Homo sapiens: one gene and its partner. The protein of the gene in region 2 purifies or fractionates together with the protein of the main gene of each other region. This does not show direct contact. Each region holds a gene or a part of one and is shown on either strand. Other genes may lie near its edges.

What was found. Proteins that work in one complex are often made in the same cells at the same time.
Region 1: the proteins of TMEM270 (region 2) and LDAF1 purify together in Homo sapiens (affinity purification with mass spectrometry; one large-scale study listed by BioGRID and IntAct). This does not show direct contact.

Annotation. Positions count from the first base shown.
Region 1 is NC_000016.10:21,168,674-21,172,173, reverse strand, and holds part of LDAF1 (lipid droplet assembly factor 1), read right to left. Parts: intron 1,738-3,500; coding exon 1,569-1,737; intron 1-1,568. UniProt on the Homo sapiens protein: Plays an important role in the formation of lipid droplets (LD) which are storage organelles at the center of lipid and energy homeostasis. In association with BSCL2/seipin, defines the sites of LD formation in the endoplasmic reticulum.
Region 2 is NC_000007.14:73,859,680-73,863,958, forward strand, and holds the start of TMEM270 (transmembrane protein 270), read left to right. Parts: upstream 1-1,479; 5' UTR 1,480-1,515; coding exon 1,516-1,587; intron 1,588-1,870; exon of another isoform or gene 1,871-1,912; intron 1,913-4,279.

The sequences.
Region 1 (3,500 bases), on a different chromosome or scaffold from region 2:
GTCCGGCCTCTTTTTTTTTTTTTTTAAAGAGATGGAGGGAATCTCGCTATGTTGCCCAGAGTGGTCTTGAACTCCTGGTCTCAAAAGATCCAAAGTCTGTATTTTGATAAAGAAAGTAAGATTTATACACACTTGGAGCTGGGTGCAGTGGCTCACACCTGTAATCCCAGCACTTTGGGAGGCCGAGGTGGGCAGATCACTTGAGGTCGGGAGCTCAAGACCATCCTGGCCAACATGGCGAAACCCTATCTCTACCAAAAATACAAAAATTAGTCGGGCATGGTGGGGCATGCCTGTAATCCCAACTACTTGGGAGGCTGAGGCAGGAGAATTTCTTGAACCTGGGTGGCAGAGGTTGCAGTGAGTTGAGATCATGCCACTGTATTCCAGGCTGGGCGACAGAGTAAGATTCCATCTAGAAAAAAAAAAAAGATTTAAATACACTCAGGTTCAAGAACCACTATTCTAGAGGCTTTGCACATGCTGTTCCCCTGTCCAAAAGGCCCTTCCTTGCCCACCCTGAGGCAAAGTTGTTATGCATCCTTAAAGTCTTGTCTGCTGTAAAGCTTTGCATGGTACCACCAAAATGTAATGGCTCTCTCCTTTCTCTATAAATTTCCTTTCTTATGGTACTCATTCATTCCTCCATCCATTCATTCATGCATTCACCCATCTATCTATCAACATTTACTCAAAAACCACTCTGCCAGGCTGTATTTGGCTCATCCACTGACCATGCCTACTTTCTCCTTCAAGTGTAAACTGCCTTGTCCCTGGGGCAAATAAACAGCCCTGGGTGCTCTTAGCTCTGGGAAGCCACGGAATGGACCAGAAGTGATCACCTGACCCACTGGCCACCATCTCTTTGGCCACTTGCCTGGGGTGTGTGATCTGATTTGAAAAGTCAAAGTGAGCAAATCAGATTTGCTTTCCCAGTAATTTTAACTTAGGAATACAGGGAGAAGTTGACTGTTGGTAGTGGAACTTCAGGAGGAAGGATGAAGGTGGTCTCCAGTACCTAGCGAGGCATCTGGCATGCAGTAGGTGCCCAATAACTCACTGTGGAATGAATGGCCTCTCTGCTTAATAATAATAGCTAGCATTCATTGAGAAGCTACTCTGTGACATGTATTGTGTATTGTGCTAAGGACTTTATGGAGCCATAAGTTTCAATCTTCACAACAACCTTTTGAGATTGTATTATTATATCTGCATTTTACATATTAAGAATTTAAGGCTCAGAGAGGTAAACCACTTGCCCCAAATCACAGTGGTGGAGGTGGGATTTGAATGCAGGCTCCAGAGTCTATGTTTTACCTACTCTGATAAGTTGCCTTGCTTGATGTGATTTTGACAAGAATGGCAGACAACCAGGCATGGTAGCCCATGGCCATAATCCCAGCACTTTGGCAGGCCGACGTGGGAGGATCACTTGAGCCCAGGAGTTTGAGACCAGCCTGGGCAACATAACAAGACCCCGCCCCTTAAAAAAATTTTTAAATGGCCCCAAAAGTATTTTTCTCCCAATTGAATTATTTTCTAAAGGGGTGAATGACGGAACAGGCTACCTTCCAATATTATGACCCCCAGCAGAGCAGCCAGGGTGGTAAGCACCACGATGAGCAGGAAGAATCCAACAGGAACGGCCGACATGACAATGAACACCAGCAAGGTGAAGGCCAGAAACGGATGGCTGTCCAAGTACTGACCCACTGGAGACTTCATAAAGGCCACCACCTGTAGGCAAAGGACAAAGAGCCAGGGATAAGTAACACATCGGAACCCCAGGTTGAATGAATCTGCCCAAGCTGTGGGAATTACAAGGCAGAAGTCGTAAAGCCAGAAGGCTTATGCATTAACAAGTCACTACAGGCCGGGTGCAGTGGCTCATGTCTGTAATCCCAACACTTTGGGAGGCCAAGGCGAGCGGATCACCTGAGGTTGGGAGCTTGAGACCAGCCTGACCAACATGATGAAACCCCCGTCTCTACTAAAAATACAAAATTAGCCAGGCACGGTGGTGTGTGCCTGTAATCCTAGCTACTGGGGAGGCTGAGGCAGGAGAATTGCTTGAACCTGGGAGACAGAGGTTGCAGTGAGCCAAGGTTGCACCATTGCACTCCAGCCTGGGAGGCAGAGGTTGCAGTGAGCCAAGGTCACACCATTGCACGCCAGCCTGGGAGACAGAGCAAGACTCCATCTCAAAAATGATAATAAGAATAACAAGAGCGAAACTCCGTCTCAAAAAAAAAAAAAAAGTCACTACAACAAGACTTCTCCCAAGACATGAGTCACCCAGGCAGCTATCTTAGGCAGCTGTGGAGAGGTGGCAAGTCTGAGGTCCCCACCCAAGGTCAAGCCTTGTGAAAGGAGGAAAGACCCAGTCATGGCTCTCCTGCCAAACACACTCTTGAGAAGACCTCTTCGGCATAAAGGTGCATTGATGTAAGGTACATACCATCTGCCTCCTACTTTACAGCTGAGGTTCTCATAGTTGAAGCCACTCAGACACAAATAGGCTTAGCTACTTGGATCATCTAGGAGTTTGTTAGAAATACAGAATCTGGCTGGGCGTGGTGGCTCACATCTGTAATCCCAGCATTATGGGAAGTCGAGGCAGGAAGATTGCTTGAGGCCAGGAGTTTGAGACCAGCCTGGACAACACAGCAAGATTCCATCTCTACAAAAAATTTAAAAACTAGCTTGGCATAGCAGCACATACCCACAGTCCTAGCTACTTGGGAGGCTGAGGTGGGAGGATCACTGGAGCCCAGGAGTTTGAGGTTGCAGTGAACTATGGATTGCACCACTGCATTCCAGCCTGGGCAACAGAGGGAGATCTTGTCTCCAGAAAAAGGGGAAAAAAAAAGGAAATGCAGAATCTCAGGCCCTGATGAATCAGACTGCCTTTTAAACAAGATTCCCCAGGTGTCGTGCATACACATTAAAGTTTGAGAAGCAATGAACTAAGTCACTTGTCTAGAGTCGCACAGCCTCCAAGTTGCAAAATCTCAGCATTAAAAGCTAATCACTTGTCTATTATTAAGCATTAAAAGCATTATTATTATTAAAAGCATTATTAAAGTGATTAGCATTAAAAGCTAATCACTTGTCTATTATTATTAAAAGTATTATTACTATTAAAAGCATTATAATTATAATTATAATATAATAATTATATATGTTTATAATTATATATAATATAATATATTATATTATATATACTATAAATATAAATATTTAAATATATAAATATAAATAAATATAAATATATAAATATAAATATATAATATAAATTATAATTATAAATATAAAATATAAAAATATTTATAATTATATAAAATTAAATTATATTTAATTTTATATAAAAATATAATTATATTTATAAAAATATAAATATAAAAATATTTATAATTATAATATATAAAATAAAAATATAATATAATATTAAAAATATATATATAATTATATATAAAAATATAATTGTAATGTAATATAAA
Region 2 (4,279 bases):
TCCCCCTCCCCTCCCCTCCCCTCCCCTTCCCTCTTTTTATCACAGAGTCTCACTCTCTTGCCCAGGCTGGAGTACAGTGGCATGATCTCAGCTCACTGCAACCTCTGCCTTCTGGGTTCAAGCAATTCTCCTGCCTCAGCCTCCTGAGCAGCTGAGATTATAGGTGCACGCCACCATGCCAGGCCAATTTTTTTTTTTTTTTGTATTTTTAGTAGAGACGGGGTTTCACCATGTTGGTCAGGCTGGTCTCTGCTGAGACCAGCTTGGCTGGGGAGACCCTAACCCAGCAGCACTAGAGGAATTAAACACACACACACACACACACACACACACACACACACACAGAGAAATAAAGAGGTGTGAAGTGGGAAATCAGGGGGTCTCACAGCCTTCAGAGCTGAGAGCCTCAAACGGAGATTTACCCACGTATTTATTAACAGCAAGCCAGTCATTAGCATTGTTTCTATAGATATTAGATTAACTATAGATTAGATTAGATTCCCATAGAAGTATCCCTTATGGGAAACAAAGGGATTGGGCCCAAATAAAGGGATGTGTTTGGCTAGTTATCTGCAGCAGGAGCATGTCCTTAAGGCACAGATCACTCATGCTCTTGTTTGTGGTTTAAGAACGCCTTTAAGCAGTTTTCCGCCCTGGGTGGGCCAGGTGTTCCTTGCCCTCATTCCGGTAAACCCACAACCTTCCACCGTGGGTGTCATGGCCATCACGAACATGTCACAGTGCTGCAGAGATTTTGTTTATGGCCAGTTTTGGGGCCAGTTTATGGCCAGATTTTGGGGGCCTGTTCCCAACAGGTCTCAAACTCCTGACCTCGTGATCTGCCTGCCTCGGCCTTCCAAAGTGCTGGGATTACAGGTGTGAGCCACTGTGCCTGGCCCCTTGCCTCACTTTCTGACTTCCTATGGATGCTTGCAGGGCCCACTCCCCAAATAAACTCATCACCCTTCAATTTTTTTTCTTTGTTTAGAGATAGGGTCTTGCTCTGTCACCCAGGCTTGAGTGATCCTGGCTCACTGCAACTTCTATCTCCTGGGCTCAAGCGATTCTCCCACTTTAGACTCCTGAGTAGTTGGGACTACAGGTGTGCATGACCAAGGCTGGTTAATTTTTTTCTTTTTTTGTTTTTTTGTAAGACAGGGTCTTGCTATGTTGCCCATGCTGGTCTCAAACTCCTGGCCTCAAGCGATCCTCCTACCTTGGCCTCCCAAAGCATTGGGAATCCAGGCATGAACCCCGTTCCTAGGCGGCACTTGATTCCTGTTCCAAGATCTGGGGAAATCCGACCCGAAGGAAGCTTTGCTCTAAGACCTCCTTGGCCGTGTTGGGCTCAGACGTGGACTGAGGTTTCAGAGGAAGCAGTGGAGCGGCAGGAGCCAGGTAAAGGCAGTGGGTCACTGGCGGCAACCGGGTCCCCATGGTAACTTGGTCCCCACCCTGTGGCATCTGTGAGGTCACCCTGCTTCTCCCAGCTGGAGTAGGTGGGGGAGGCCAGACATGGAGGCCCTTCCTCCAGTCAGATCCAGCCTTTTGGGGATCCTGTTGCAGGTTACGAGGCTCTCAGTGCTGGTGAGTGGGGGCTGGGGGTAAGTGGGGTGGGGACCACACACCAGGCCCTTCACAGAGCCACCTCAGAGCTGCCGGGCCCAAGCCCTGCCTGTCCCATCCAGTGGAACGAGGTGGCTGCCTGCCTTCCAGAATAATCTGACATCTCCCAGAAGCCCCACTCCAAACTACAGTGCTGACATTTTCTTTTCTTTTCTTTATTTAGAGACAGGGTCTCGCTCTGTCGCCCAGCCTGGAGCGCAGTGGTGCCGGCTCAGCTCGTTGCAGCCTCCAACTCCCGGTCTCAAGCAATCCTCCCCCCTCAGCCTCCAAGTAGCCGGGACTATAGGTGTGCACCACCACGCCTGACTAATTTTTGTATTTTGTAGAGATGGTGTCTCACTACGTTGCCCAGGCGGGTCTCCAACTCTTGGCCTCACATGATCCTCCTACCTCAGCTTCCTGAGGTGCTGGGATTATAGGTGTGAGCCACCGCACCTGGCAGCATTTTCTCTATTGAGGGTCACTCCTATGGGTGAATCATTGTTTTTCCCATTCATTTTTTCTTTTTTTTGAGACAGAGTCTCGCTCTGTTGCCCAGGCTGGAGTGCAGTGGTGCGATCTCGGCTCACTGCAACCTCTGCCTCCTGGGTTCAAGCAGTTCTTCTGCCTCAGCCTCCCAAGTAGCTGGGACTACAGGCACGTGCCATCATCCCTGGCTAATTTTTTTTTTTTTTTGTATTTTTAGTAGAGACCCTGTTAGCCAGGATGGTCTCGATCTCCTGACCTTGTGATCTGCCCGCCTCAGCTCCCCAAAGTGCTGGGATTACAGACATAAGCCACTGCGCCTGGCTCATTCATCTCTCTCTCTTTTTTTTTTTTTCAGATGCAGTCTTGCCCTGTCGCGCAGGCTGCAGTGTAATGGTGCGATCTCGGCTCACTGCAACTTCCACCTCCAGGTTCAAGCAATTCTCCTGCCTCAGCCTTCCAAGTAGCTGGGATTACAGGCGTGCGCCACCACGCCCAGCTAATTTTTTGTATCTTTAGTAGAGACAGGGTTTCACCGCATTGGCCAGGCTGGTCTCAAACTCCTGACCTCGTAATCCACCCACCTCGGCCTCCCAAAGTTCTGGGATTACAGGTGTGAGCCACCGCACCTGGCCCATTCATCTCTTTTAAACATACACATGCTTGTGGTCGGGGTCACAACTCAGTCACACTTAGGAGGCCGAGGTGGGAGTATAGATTGAGCCTGGGAGGCCAAGGCTGCAGTCAGCCAAGATCATATAACAGGGGGCAGTTGAGAAAGACAGACACCATTAGATTTGCATCTTGGGACCGGGAGCTGTGGCTCACACCTGTAATCCCAGCACTTTGGGAGGCCGAGGCGGGCAGATCACCTGAGGTCAGGAGTTCCAGACCAGCCTGACTAACATGAAGAAACCTTGTCTCTACTAAAAATACAAAATTAGCCACGCGTGGTGGTGCATGCCTGTAATCCCAGCTACTCAAGAGGCTGAGGCAGGAGAATCGCTTGAACCTGGGAGGCGGAGGTTGCGGTGAGCCGAGATCCCACCATTGCACTCCAGCCTGGGCAACCCTGGGCAACAAGAGCAAAACCCTGTCTCAGAAAAAAAAAAAAAAAAAAAAAAAAAAAGATTTGCATCTTGGCTGTTTTACCCTCTAGCTGTGTGAATTTGGGCAAATCACTTCACCACTCTGAGCCCGTTTCCTCTCCTATAGAAATGATCTTGTGGGATCATGTGGGATATCATAGGTTTCCCTCCTCCCTGGTCTCAGCACCATAACCTGGGAGGTCCTATTTCCTAGCTCTACCCTAATTCTTCTCCCTGCTGGACCCTTTGGTCTCAGCATAGCTCCACCCTCCACGTCCCAAGCTCTGCAAATCCAGCCCGTGAGTGGGGGGTCTTGCAGCCAATCTCAGATGGTGGGGCCTGTGGACACGGGGATGGGGGGTCCAGGTGGGTGGATTGGTGTCACTCAAGGGCTGGGGGCTTTCCAGCTCTGATGAAGGGTCTCCAGGACTCAAGAACAGCTTTCCCCCACCTCACCCCAGTCCTGCAGCTTCATCTCAGTGAATGGGAGACACCGTTGTCCAACTCACCACCCAGATCAGAAATCTGGAATTCTTTTTTTTTTTTTTTGAGATGGAGTCTCACTCTGTTACCCAGGCTGGAGTGCAGTGGCACGATCTGGGCAAACTGCAACCTCCGCCTCCTGGGTTCAAGCAATTCTCCTGCCTCAGCCTCCCGAGTAGCTGGGATTACAGGCATGCACCATCATGCCCAGCTAATTTTTGTATTTTTAGTAGAGATGGGGTTTCACCAGGTTGACCAGGCTGGTCTCGAAATCTTGACCTCAGGTGATCCGTCTGCTTCGGCCTCCCAGAGTGCTGGGATTACAGGTGTGAGCCACCATGTCCGGCTGGAAATCTGGAAGTCTTTCTGGATCTCTCTCCTTCACCCTTCTCATTAGGTCTGTCGTGAATTATGTGACCCCTGCCCCATGTCTCTCACGCCTCCCTGCCCCTAATGGCATTGTCCTTTGCCCCAGCAGCCCTCCTGATGCCAGGGGACAACTGGTACAGAGGCAAAGCCCAGCTACTTGGAAGAAGACAAGTGACCTGGGTTCAAAGCCCACAGGATTGGGGTGGGGGATCGTAACATGGTAATAATAGCCATGAAACCTCCTTCAG